4 separate regions of the Homo sapiens genome follow, and all the other regions are reported to be linked to region 1. The links are microRNA targets in miRTarBase. Many come from high-throughput screens and were not tested one by one. Region 1 holds a microRNA gene; each other region holds the end of a gene's coding sequence.
What was found. Region 1 holds the annotated microRNA hsa-miR-328-3p (CUGGCCCUCUCUGCCCUUCCGU, at 1,037-1,058, opposite strand). A microRNA usually pairs through its seed, bases 2 to 8, with sites in the 3' UTR of a target mRNA and lowers its output. Matches are read on the target gene's strand: a 7mer-m8 pairs with bases 2 to 8, a 7mer-A1 pairs with bases 2 to 7 and ends in A, and an 8mer does both.

Region 2: the mRNA of SLC25A40 is a reported target of hsa-miR-328-3p. The part of its 3' UTR that is shown has no 7-base or 8-base seed match.
Region 3: the mRNA of PTPRJ is a reported target of hsa-miR-328-3p. The part of its 3' UTR that is shown has no 7-base or 8-base seed match.
Region 4: the mRNA of TYW3 is a reported target of hsa-miR-328-3p. The part of its 3' UTR that is shown has no 7-base or 8-base seed match.

Annotation. Positions count from the first base shown.
Region 1 is chr16:67,201,291-67,204,446 of GRCh38, forward strand. MIR328 (microRNA 328) reads right to left here and starts at 1,105; the gene lies at 1,031-1,105. It overlaps ELMO3 (engulfment and cell motility 3), which reads left to right. Exons shown (of 20, transcript NM_024712.5): 9 at 95-145; 10 at 230-352; 11 at 452-583; 12 at 687-788; 13 at 886-994; 14 at 1,107-1,243; 15 at 1,337-1,500; 16 at 1,602-1,714; 17 at 1,829-1,933; 18 at 2,037-2,119; 19 at 2,207-2,293; 20 at 2,375-2,714. The coding sequence ends at 2,587.
Region 2 is chr7:87,833,729-87,836,884 of GRCh38, reverse strand. It overlaps SLC25A40 (solute carrier family 25 member 40), which reads left to right. Exons shown (of 12, transcript NM_018843.4): 11 at 75-155; 12 at 524-3,156. The coding sequence ends at 636. Among named protein-coding and RNA genes, the nearest start is that of SLC25A40, 41 kb to the left of the region's middle.
Region 3 is chr11:48,166,666-48,169,821 of GRCh38, reverse strand. PTPRJ (protein tyrosine phosphatase receptor type J) reads right to left here. Exons shown (of 25, transcript NM_002843.4): 25 at 1-2,618. The coding sequence ends at 2,460. Among named protein-coding and RNA genes, the nearest start is that of OR4B1, 49 kb to the left of the region's middle.
Region 4 is chr1:74,763,593-74,766,748 of GRCh38, reverse strand. TYW3 (tRNA-yW synthesizing protein 3 homolog) reads right to left here. Exons shown (of 6, transcript NM_138467.3): 6 at 72-2,855. The coding sequence ends at 2,636. Among named protein-coding and RNA genes, the nearest start is that of TYW3, 32 kb to the right of the region's middle.

The DNA of each region.
Region 1 (3,156 bases):
TCGTGATCCGCCCGCCTTGGCCTCCCAAAGTGCTGGGATTACAGGCGTGAGCCACCGCGCCCAGCCTAAGCCCCCTTTCTTTCTACCCCCTCAGCACATGCTTGACTATCTTTGGCAGAGGAACCTTCGCCAGTTCATCTATAAGGTAGGAAGTGGTGGGCCAGGGGGACCTCTCTGCCCCTCCCTCCCCGTGAGCCCTCGCTTACACCAGGGACTGGCTGTCCTGCAGAACATCATCCACAGTGCAGCACCAATGGGCGACGAGATGGCTCATCACCTGTACGTACTGCAGGCTCTCATGCTGGGGCTGCTGGAGCCGCGCATGCGGACGCCCCTGGACCCCTACAGCCAGGTGTGTGTCTTTGGTGAGGACAAGGCAGGGGGTGGCTTAGAGCTTGGCCTTGAATCTATAATCTTGATCCCCTCCCCCGCCACCCAACACTGACCCCAGGAGCAGCGGGAGCAGCTGCAGGTCCTACGCCAGGCTGCCTTCGAGGTGGAGGGGGAGTCCTCGGGTGCCGGGCTAAGTGCTGACCGTCGCCGTTCCCTCTGTGCCCGAGAGTTCCGCAAACTGGGCTTTTCTGTGAGTATCACCCCTACCCAACTCCCCACCCCTGCCTCAGCCCAGGGCTGTTGTTCCAGGCGGCCGTGGCCCTTCTTGAACTGCCTGTGCCCACTTCCCCCAGAACAGCAACCCAGCACAGGACCTGGAGCGCGTGCCCCCCGGTCTGCTGGCCCTGGACAACATGTTGTACTTCTCCAGAAACGCGCCCAGCGCGTACAGCCGGGTCGGTGACAGGGTAGGGTGGGGGGGTGGCAGCATCCCCCAGGCAGGGTCCCCATGGGCTTAGCTGTGACTCCTTGCCCCATTCTCTGCGCCCCCAGTTTGTGTTGGAGAACAGCAGCCGCGAGGACAAGCACGAGTGCCCCTTTGCCCGGGGCAGCATCCAGCTGACGGTGCTGCTGTGTGAGCTGCTCCGTGTTGGGGAGCCCTGTGAGTGGCCTGGACTGGGCACAGCATGGCCAAGAGCAGGGGACGGAAGGGCAGAGAGGGCCAGGGGCTGTATGCACTTTCTCCCTGAGCCCCTCCTGCCCCCCCACTCCAGGCTCTGAGACAGCCCAGGACTTCTCACCCATGTTCTTCGGCCAAGACCAGAGCTTCCACGAGCTCTTCTGTGTGGGCATCCAGCTGTTGAATAAGACCTGGAAGGAGATGCGGGCTACACAGGAGGACTTCGACAAGGTGGGTGGGGTGGGAGCTGGGAGGCCTGGGCCAGGGCAGGGGGCTGATCTGGGTACAGAGCTTAGGCCCTGAGCTGAGCTTGGGCGGCCCCAGGTCATGCAGGTGGTGCGGGAGCAGCTGGCCCGCACTCTGGCCCTGAAGCCCACTTCCCTGGAGCTCTTCCGAACCAAGGTGAATGCGCTCACTTATGGGGAGGTGCTGCGGCTGCGGCAGACTGAACGGCTGCACCAGGAGGGCACACTGGCTCCCCCTATACTGTGAGTCTGGGGGGATGGATCCTCAGTCCTAGCCCTACCTTCCTTGGTGCCCCCTGGGCTACTCCCCAGGTCAGATGTGCTCAGTGACACCCCTCTATCAGGGAGCTGCGGGAGAAGCTGAAGCCAGAGCTCATGGGCCTGATCCGCCAGCAGCGCTTGCTCCGCCTCTGTGAGGGGACGCTCTTCCGCAAGATCAGCAGCCGGCGGCGCCAGGGTCTCTGAATGGGCATGGGCAGGGGGCAGAGGGCAGGCAGAGGGCAGGCAGAGGGCGGCTGGCTTGGTGTCAGGACCTCTCAGCACTCTGGCCCTCTTCCCTTTCTCCACGCAGATAAGCTGTGGTTCTGCTGCCTGTCCCCCAACCACAAGCTGCTGCAGTACGGAGACATGGAGGAGGGCGCCAGCCCGCCTACCCTGGAGAGTCTGCCCGAGCAACGTAAGGCGGGCAGGGGCGGGGGCCAGATACCTGCTCTCCCCAGACCGCCCTGGGCCCCGGGGCTGCCAGGGCTGCAGTGCTCAGCCCAGCCTTCTTCCTGCAGTCCCTGTGGCCGACATGAGGGCACTCCTGACAGGCAAGGACTGCCCCCATGTCCGGGAGAAGGGCTCCGGGAAGCAGAACAAGGTGAGTACAGCGGGCCAGGGGCTCCTTCCCACCCGCCCCCGCCTACCCTGTCCCCTGCTCAGTGTCCCCGCTCCCTTGCTTCCCCAGGACCTCTATGAGTTGGCCTTCTCAATCAGCTATGACCGTGGGGAGGAGGAAGCGTACCTCAACTTCATTGCCCCCTCCAAGCGGGAGGTGAGTGTCCGCCAGGCTGAGGTCGGCAGGTGGGCAGGGGAGGCAGATGGGCAGACCCTCACGGCTCTGTGCCACCCCCAGTTCTACCTGTGGACAGATGGGCTCAGTGCCTTGCTGGGCAGTCCCATGGGCAGCGAGCAGACACGGCTGGACCTGGAGCAGCTGCTGACCATGGAGACCAAGCTGCGTCTGCTGGAGCTGGAGAACGTGCCCATCCCCGAGCGGCCACCCCCTGTGCCCCCACCCCCCACCAACTTCAACTTCTGCTATGACTGCAGCATCGCTGAACCTTGACAGTGTGGCTGGCCATGGGCCACAGCTGCGGCCACTGCAGCAGCCATGAAGGGCAGTGGGTAGAGGAGTGCAGGCACCCTGACCAGCAGAGATTGCTGCAGAAATAAAGTCTGCTTGGCTCTTGGGATATGTTGAGCCAGCTCTGTACCTTGCGGGCTGAGCCTGTGACAGTGACAGTCTTCCCCTTCTGCCTTCAAACTTAGCTGGTGGATAAGATGGGGCATCAGGCCAGGCCACAAACTTTGACAGCTACGGTTGAGGGGCTGGTGTTCTGAAGGGGGTGGGGAGAGGCTGGGACTGCAGCCTTTCTCCAAGGTGAGTCCTCAGCCTCCCTCCATGCTGGGCCTGCAGGGAGGGTTGGCCTGTGGTCTGGGGGCACCTGCCAAGGGAGAGGCTGAGCTGCCGGCCTGCTGCAGGAGAACTGGCAGGGTAGGAGGCACTGCCCCAAATGGATGCCTTCCTGGACAGCGTTAACAGGGGCGTAGTCTGGGAGCCATCTCCAGAAGGCTCCTGACAATCTGACCTCAGTCCTCAAGCTTGCATGGCCCTGCCTGGTGTCCTTTGTAGGA
Region 2 (3,156 bases), not on the chromosome of region 1:
ACACTATGTTATCTGTAGTAGGAATTATTAAATTGTTATTTATAATAGCATTATTTCTTTATTTTAACATTTAGTTTCTATGCCTTTGCATATGTCAACCTGGATTATAATGAAGAACATTGTTGCTAAAAATGGATTTTCCGGATTATTTTCAGGTAAAAATACTTGCTTTACCGAATCATTGAATAGAATGATTACTTTTAAAATATTACCTTCTAAAATTAACTTATAGGAGGAAGTTATAGGTAACATACTACATTTATTTTCTCCTAAATATCTTTATTATAAGTTAAAATAAATGTTAAATAAAAGATTTACTATCAATAAGATAAAAATTTCTCTATAATGTAATATGGATTGAAGTGAGGATGTTGGAAGTGAGCAGTCTTTTCTACCAATTTATGGATTTGAACATATTACTTCATTTAATTTGATAATTATCAGAATAAAGCCAAAAAATAATATTTTTAAAAATAAGGTAAGAAAAAAATATTTGTTTTGATTATTCCTATTCTTTTCTCAGGCCTAATTCCTCGCTTAATTAAAATTGCTCCTGCTTGTGCCATTATGATCAGTACATATGAATTTGGAAAGGCTTTTTTCCAGAAACAAAATGTTCGAAGGCAGCAATACTAGTGATGCTGTTTCAACTTGAAACAACAACTATAGCCAAAGAAGATGGAGACTCTTAGGCAAGAATGTTTTTCACCATTATTCTCTCACAATGATTTTATGTCTTTCTTTCCTATAATTTAAATAAATAATTTCAGCTCTACCTCTAAATCATAATTTTAAAATAAATTTTATCTTATTTTTGGTGATATTGAAAAAGATATTCTAGAAATCACCACCATTGAGCATTCTTGTAAAAATAGATTACTCCTTAGCATCAAAAGCAGTCTCTTGAAAGTTTAATATTATATGTTTCAGTGTAACATAATCTTACTGGGAGTGTGTTGAATACACCAGAACTTTTTGAATTGTGTGCTGAATGATGTACATAGTCTAGAAGAAAAAAGCCCAAGTCTTGTGCACATTTAAATCGTGTACATAAGTATTTCCGTATTTCAGTAAAGTAGATAAAGCACTCGTTAAATAGCATTGTTTACATCGACCAAATATTGCCTGTTTCCTTTAATTCAAATGCATTAGGTTCCCGCCTCCCTCTCCTTCCCCGCCATGTTGCTGTTTTAAGGCTTCATATGTATTAACATTTCTCTGATCAAAATTGTGGCTGTTTTCCTTATGAACCATAATATAATCATTTGTGTGATGTACATTGTGCCATTTTTGATGACTAAATGTCTATATTTCTGCCATTCCTGTAAGAGAGGGAGTTTTTTACTGATAGTAGCAAATGTTCACTTCAGTCAAACTTGGGTGTTCAGTGGTAAACCATATAGTATTTAGACTGGTAAAAATAGTTTGCACACAGGAATAGCCTCTGATTTTTAGCTCTCTTGTAATCCAAGTATCATTGTTCATGGAATTCTCTAGGTCATTTTTATTGTGTTGTTCTAACAAGACAGATTATTGCTACAACAATAGTTACAAGATATTTCTAAAATATCCTTTGATTTTTACTCTAAGTATGGTAGAGTAAGAGGCTAAACAAGAAGCTGTTTCCTTGAAGACATTGCTTTCAGTCACCATACATGTCTAAATAATTTAGCTTATCATTCATTCTATGTAGGAATGAGATAAGAAAGGATATGATGGCAGGAAAAGAAATGCTATTCATTTTTTATACTTTAGTTTTATTTTCTTAGGATCTATATCCTATATATATATATTTTTTAAAGCACTAATTTATTGCAGTCTTTATTTTAGAAAAATGTGAAGCATTTTTTTCTCCCCTAAAATGAATATATTTAGATGACAAGTCTTTAGTGCTGGTAGAGGAACTAATTGATTTTGTACTATAGTAGGAAAGTGTTTATATGTTTCACCAGAAATAAAATATGTAGGGTTTGTATGTAATCTTCTGTGTTTATCCTATGTTGATTTACCTTAAATTTGCAACATACATATCCACATAAATATTCATGACTTTCTTATATTTCATTAAAATGTTTTATGGCTTCTTAAAATCATCACTGTGCTTCTAAATATTTTTACGTAAAATCATTGTATAATGCTATACTGTGATATACATGAAAGTTTATCTTGAACAGTGCTCTTTAACAATATTAAATTTAAATTTATCTTGGTTTTGCTATGCTTATGGGTAATTCATAGAAAACAGAAAAAATACTGTTCCCAAAAGGCAGTTATATATTTCAGTTTAATATCACCTATAAGTATGAGAAAGGTTTCCATGTCTCCTACCCCTCACTGCACTTAGGAAAATTCTTATTTATGAATAAAGTAAGATAAGTAAATCTAATTGCCTAGTCGTTTTTTTAACACATATACATGCAATGTATCTGGATGAATAGAAGGCTGAATTGAAGCTTTCTTTATATTTAAGAGGTAAAAAGAAATATTAATACTTTTAAAATATACTAACAACCAAAAAGTGTTCAGAATTTTGCTATAATAATAATTTGTATTAAAATAGTACCTAGAAAAATTCAGTCTATGGAATAGGTAAAATTTTAAAATTTTAATTTGCTCTCAGAGTTCTGTCTGATAAAATAATTGAACTATAATTGGCATGATGAATATTCCCAGGTTTTACTTCAGTATATAAATTTAACTCTCAGCCACATGGGCTTTCCAGACTTTTCAATACATATGATGTTGCAGGAATTGCAATATTTGCAAACATGTGCCACAACAGTGTTCTTGGTGATGTTTCTAAAACAGTTTTTATTCTATTAATGTTAAATTTTCTAACATAAACATTTAATTGATTAATGTAAAATTTTAGGAAGGAACATCTTTAATTTTCAATATGAGATGGTTGCAACCTTTAAAGTAGTACATATTTGATTTTTTTTAAAAGGCAATATTTTTTTTTCTAGGAAAACTATTCATTATGGTTATTTAACTGCATATGTTTTTTAAATTTTTCCCTCTTGGAACAACATGTACTGGGGCCTATCAAAGGGTGGAGGGTGGGAGGAGGGAGAGGAACAGGAAAAATAACTAATGGGTACTAGGCTTAATACCTGGGTGATGAAATAATCTGTATAATAAATCCCCATGACACAA
Region 3 (3,156 bases), not on the chromosome of region 1:
CCGCTTGCCCATTTCCCAAGCCCACACCAGGCGGAAGGGAAGAGGGTTCCTGTGTTTTTCATTTTTATACAATATGTTTACAGTTATGTTGCTTTAATCTTTTAAAGTATTTAACCTTTTAAAGGATTTTTTAGCAACAAGTCCCTTCCTCTGACTTCTCTGTGGCAGTGATGTGGGCAGAGCAGGGCTTAGGAGCTCCCTGGGATTTGCCACCCATCACAATGGTTTCGGACATATTGGAGGGGAGAGGGCCACAGCCCACAGAACTGCTGCCTGAACAGGGACCTATGAATGAAGTACCGACCGCTCCGAGATCTGTATGAGTTGGAGGCAGGCCAGTGTGAAGGTGTGGGAGGAATCCGCCCACACCCAGCTTCATACAGCACCCTGAGGACAATGTGGCTTCCCTGATTCACACCTACTGAGCCAAGGCCCCCTCTGAAGTTAGGTCAAGAGGGCCCACCCTAGCCGGGCCAACTCATTCCTTTGAGGACCTGATACTCAATGAACTGCTTACTACCAAAAAAATGCAAAGGATTCAGCAAAAAGTGCAATTTCCATTTGAGAAGTAAGATTCTCCCCAAAACATGACACCACCTTTTCATCCTTTCAGTACCTCAAAGGGAAAGGGAAATAAAAGGCATACAGCACTAACCCTCCGAACCACAGCCGGGGCTTTAAAAGTGTGGTTCACCCTTTAGAACCCTAAAAGACCCATTAACACGTCCAGTCAGTTATCGAAGTGCCAGTGAGGTGAGGGGCGTGGCAGAGTCAGGAGGGACCAGGAGGCTGGAAGAGCCCGCTCACATTCTCAACAGGACACACCTGTCCTGTTTACAGCAGGACACATTACTGTGGCAACAGCCACAGGACTCCAGGGACTTGGTTATTCCTTCATAAAACCTTGTCAACTTCATTGCCTATTGGAGGATAAACTCAAAACATCTTCAAAATATAACCTGAGCCACAATATAAAATAAAAAGAAAAAATCTTTTCATGTTAATGCCTTAAGAAGTTTACAGATTATGTACCAATAAAATAAATCCACATAAATTTGAAATTCTTGGTGGATACACACCTGAAGCAAAAAAAAAAAAATTAATCTACATTTTAAAAATCAAAGTAATTACAGCAGCAGTATAGTGAAAAGGTTTTAAAAATAATAATTACATCTTTGATACAAATTCAAACTTTGTACACCTCAATTCATAGGAATGACTGTTTTTGAGAGCTTAGTGTATATATATATATATATATATATATATATATATATATATATATATATACACAGTAGATTCCGATATGTGTCACGGCAGAGAGAGACGAAAGCCAGTGGACTTTGGGGAAGGAGGGATTAATCTGACACTGAATTCACGCTGAAGTGTTCACAGATTGCCACGCTTCTGAACATACACACACACATACAGACACAGACACATAAAATGCCAACCTGAGTAAAACGTTACTAAAAACCTAGAACATCATGAATCACTAATTCACATATTGCACCTTTAAATAATCCTTCATACCAAATACAGACATGAGAAAAAGGATAATACAGGGACAAGAAAAGGATTTCTGCCACTGTAGGATTCCTCTGCTTCTCCCATTCCCACCCACAGAAATTCTCAAGGTGATATTTGAGTCGCCATTCTCACCCAACCAATGGGTTGAAAATGTTGCCAACAGAAGAGTCTTTGGAGAAAACTGGGAGGGAAAAGGGAAGAAAAAATGGAGCACAAATGTACAGGGGGCAGGGGAAGCGGAGTCGGGGCAAAGAGGCCTCCCCTGATCAAATGAGAACAGAAATGTTACTGAGGAAGCAAACCTCTGATGCTAAGCTACTGTTTAAATATTCCGTATATTCCAATTATGAGATTCAGTACAAAAATATAGATCTCTACTGAGTTTTGCCTGTGGAAGCATAATTCAGAAAAGGCACATGTTCAAATAGAAAACCCATTCGGAAGAGGTGCCACGTACCCCTCCCTGCGCAATCATCATCCACAATTAGGTATTTTCCATCGGCTAGATTCCAAGACACAGTAGGTAAAAATAGACCTCTGATACTTAAAATATATTCAACCCAACACAATCCTGGCTTTAGCATGTGAATCATATAAAATAGTCTTTTTTAAAAAAGAAATTGTTTTGGAAAAAAAAATCATAGCTCCCTTTTCCTGGTTTTCCACAATCCTCAAGGGGGAAAAAAAAAAAAAGTGACCTCATCCCATTGGTCATCAGGAATGCAGATGATTTGCTCCCCACCCATCCACAGCCCCCGACAGCCCCAATTTGTCATCTATCATATGCAGCTTCATGCCCTCAAAATTAGTTCTCACAAAACAGAACAAAGAATTAAGATATTAGACATATAAAAACATGTCGACATCGGGGCATGTGCCTTCGCTGTGGGTGCGACGGTCTGGTTCACTCCAGAAAGGTTATTCCTTTGGAATTAGGCGATGTAACCATTGGTCTTTCCAAATGTGGTCACGGGCGCAAGGTTTTCATAGATTGTCATTGCAGTTGTGTTCTGGTAGATAAGATCTACTTTTGAGTCTTTCTGGGATCTGACAATATCCAAAACACACTGATTGAGGAAAACATACTGGTCCTGATAGAAAAACGAAAGAGAGAGACAGAAAATGAACATGGGTCCCAGAAATTAGCACCCAAAATTATTTTCAAACAGGTCATTCCCCCGCCCAACTCCCAAACCCCATCCACCCAACAGCAAACGGTTCAAGCGAACATGTTTCAAGAGGTAACAACATTGCAGTGAAATCTGAAATCACAGAAGCAAGATGTCCTTCCTCAATGATTCTCAACCAGAAGAGCACACTCCACACCTCCCCTCCCCAAGGAAAAATGCCACAGTCTCAGGGAAGGGCAAAGGAAGGAGGAAATGTAGAGGAAAAAATGCACACACACATTCGAACAATCAAATGTCCAACAAGATTGCCTTGGCTAGTGAGACTGTACAGAGTAAGAATCAACTGTAATGCTCAACCGAGGAGCGAGGTTAAAAGGAGATGATCAGGTGGAGCTGGATGAGGACTATCCTTCAGGTAGGTATATCAGAATCTGTGGATAGTGATGAAGAAAAGAGGAAACAAGGGTATAAGCTGACACAGAAAAATATCCATGATATT
Region 4 (3,156 bases), not on the chromosome of region 1:
GCCTAGGATGTTCTGTATAAACGTATTACTGTATAAACTTTATAAACACTGGACACTAAGACTACACAAAATTTCATTAAAAATGTTTTATTTCTTCAATAAATTAACCTTGGCTCACAATGAACATTTGGTTTATAAACTTTAATTTCTTAAAACTTTTTGACTCTTTGGTAATAATGCTTAGCTTATTGTACAGCTGTACAAAATATTTCTTTATATCCTTATTCTATAAGCTTTTTTATATATTTTTTTTAACATTGGAAAAACCTTTTTGTGAAAAACTAAGATATAAACACACACATTAGCCTAAGCCTACACAGGGTCAGAATCCTCAGTATCACTGTCTTCCTCCTCCACATCTTGTACCACTGGAAGGTCTTCAGGGGCAATAACACACATGAAGCTGTCACCTTCTATGATAACAATGCCTTCTTCTGGAGTACTTCCTGAAGGACCTGTCAGAAGCTGTTTTACAGTTAACATTTTAAGTAGTATACCCTAAAATAATGATAAAAAGCATAGCAAAGACACAAACCAGTAACATATTATCAAGTATTATGTATGCACTGTACATAATTATATGTACCATACTTTTATATGACTGTCACCACAAACGTGGGTAATGTGTTGTGCTACAGCTTTACAATGACCACATCACTAGCAATAGGAATTTTTCAGGTCCATTATAATCTTATGGGGCCACCATATCGTATATGGTATATGGTCCATCATTGATGATTAAAATGTTATGTAGCTCATGAATGTATATTAAGGAATGTTAAGGAGTGAATGGGATTCAATGTCTTCTTAGGTTTATGGCCAGCACCTGGTGTCTCCTCTCTACTAACCTTATATAAACAGATTATACTATACTATACCTTATATAAACAGATTAGGAAGCAGCCCCTCTCTTCTTAATTCTCATTCATATATTCAGTTTATGGAATCTTTAAAATACATAGTTTTCTTGGAGATCAATTTAAATGAATGAAGAAAAGTCAATGAGCCTCTTAGATTTTAAAACTGCAGAATGTGTTGTCATTTCACCACAGGATAGGCTCGTTCCACCTGCACTCTCTCTTTCCTACTGTTATTTATAACTTTTTTTTTTATTCATTTATCTTCTCTTTTCATTTACTGCACTGCCAGGCAGATACTTTCATATTCTGTCCACCAGACTAGAAGAAATGCTCCAGGCATTCCGACACTGTGAGTTCCCTTTCCTGCCCAAATTTCCTTCCCAGAAGGACTGCTGTATATGTTGGTAGATAAGAATGTGCACTGCACAACTTCGAGTGCCACTGACATTGTCATCTAGGGGAATGTTCCCTCCCAAGTGGTACAGAGTTCAACTTACATAGCTGAACGAGTTGCCATGCTTTCCTGGAAACTGCCTTAGACCCAATGGTAAGGACTATAACTTACCTAAGCTCTTGCTTATTCTCCTATAAAGTGTACACATGAAATCCCTGGCACAGGTACACTGCAACATCTGTTCATGTGACCCTTTTTCTTTTCATTAGAAAAATCTTCAATTCCTCCTCAAATGCTGTCTCCAGGAATAAGTCTGTTATCAGTGGGTTCTAAAAGTGCTGGACTGATTTTATCAGAACCACTTGGATGAGTTGTGTGAAAAATAAAGATTCCTAGACTCCAGGATTAAGATTCTGGTTTGGAAGATCTGCGGCAGGGCCTATTAAAGTAGCATCTCCATGCCTCGTCCTGACCTAGGTAATTCTGATATGCAGCCATATTAAGGAAACACTGTCTACCTCCATGCTAGATTAGAACGGCCCTTCACAGTTGGGCATCAACTACCTTGACTCGCATCACATGCTGTGTTTCAGCCTTTCTGGACTATTCCCCATCACTGACTATACCATGCTTTTTGATGCCTCATATCCATTATATACCCTTTGTCTGCGAGAGGTTTTCTGATTTTTCCCATCATGTGAACTTGTATCTTGTCCTTTTAGTCCTAAATGAAATGGTATCTCCTTGAACTGGAATTCCAGTACTTCCTCACCTGTAATCAATTATTCCCAAATCTTTGTTCCTATAATAATACGTATTATTGAAGTGATACTTAAAAGTTACATGTCCCTAAAAGAATGTTTAAAACTATGTATTTACATCATTAATTTAGTTTATAGCATAAGTTTAAATCACAACCAAAGATATAATTTCTGGCATATCAACTATAATGCTAATTTCCAGCATTAAAATATCCACTATTATTTAAAATAAAGGTCTTTTTACTTAAAATATTTATGCTATCCCTTTTCAAAATGTATCCAAAATAATCTAAATACCTGTCTTAGGTCAGGTTATTTCAGAATAAGACACCATTCAAACATCTTTGATTTATTAAGCAGGTGCTTCTGGGAGAAACTGGTAAAAAAGTAGGGATAACTATAGCATTTCAGGTGAAGTCGTAGGATAAGCCGGGTACTGCTGAGAGCTTAGATGACAACTGCACATCCTCTGGGCAACAAAGTTATAGTTTGAAGCTCTGCACTTGTCATTACTGGCTTATGAATGGCTGATACACTCAACAAACTAAAATACTCTTATGAAGAGCAGCTTTATAAAACCTACTAGAAACATTACGGCCAAGACACATCAGAACCAAAGCTTAGTAATCTTCAGGGAAGATGGTAACATTGATTCCTAGATCATCATCATCATCATTTTCAAGTTCTTCATCACTTTCTTTAGTAATACACTGGGCACGTGTTTTTTCTGGGTTTCTTTTTTTCTTATGAATATATGATGAGTTATTTTTCTCTTTGATCTTGGGATGTAAGTTAGTCATCGTTTCCCTTTCCAAAGCATGCTGTAGGCAGTTGTAAAACCTGTGAAGAAATAAGTACTACTATTATATCTGTGTGTACTGAAACGAAATGACTGAAATACACCAAGAGCTTATAAGTTATGTAAATTTGACTATGTCCCATATTAGCTTTATAAATATAAATCAAATAAATAATATGTTTTATTAGGGAAATAAATGCATTTCAGTTCTTTAAGAACAGCCCTGAAAACTGGATTGGAATCACCTCTTGACAACCTCTGTCCTACCTCACTTTCCAACCCAAATGTAGGGGTCAAAGAAGAGGGTAAAAAAGAATGCAATTATTATTACATAAATGTAAT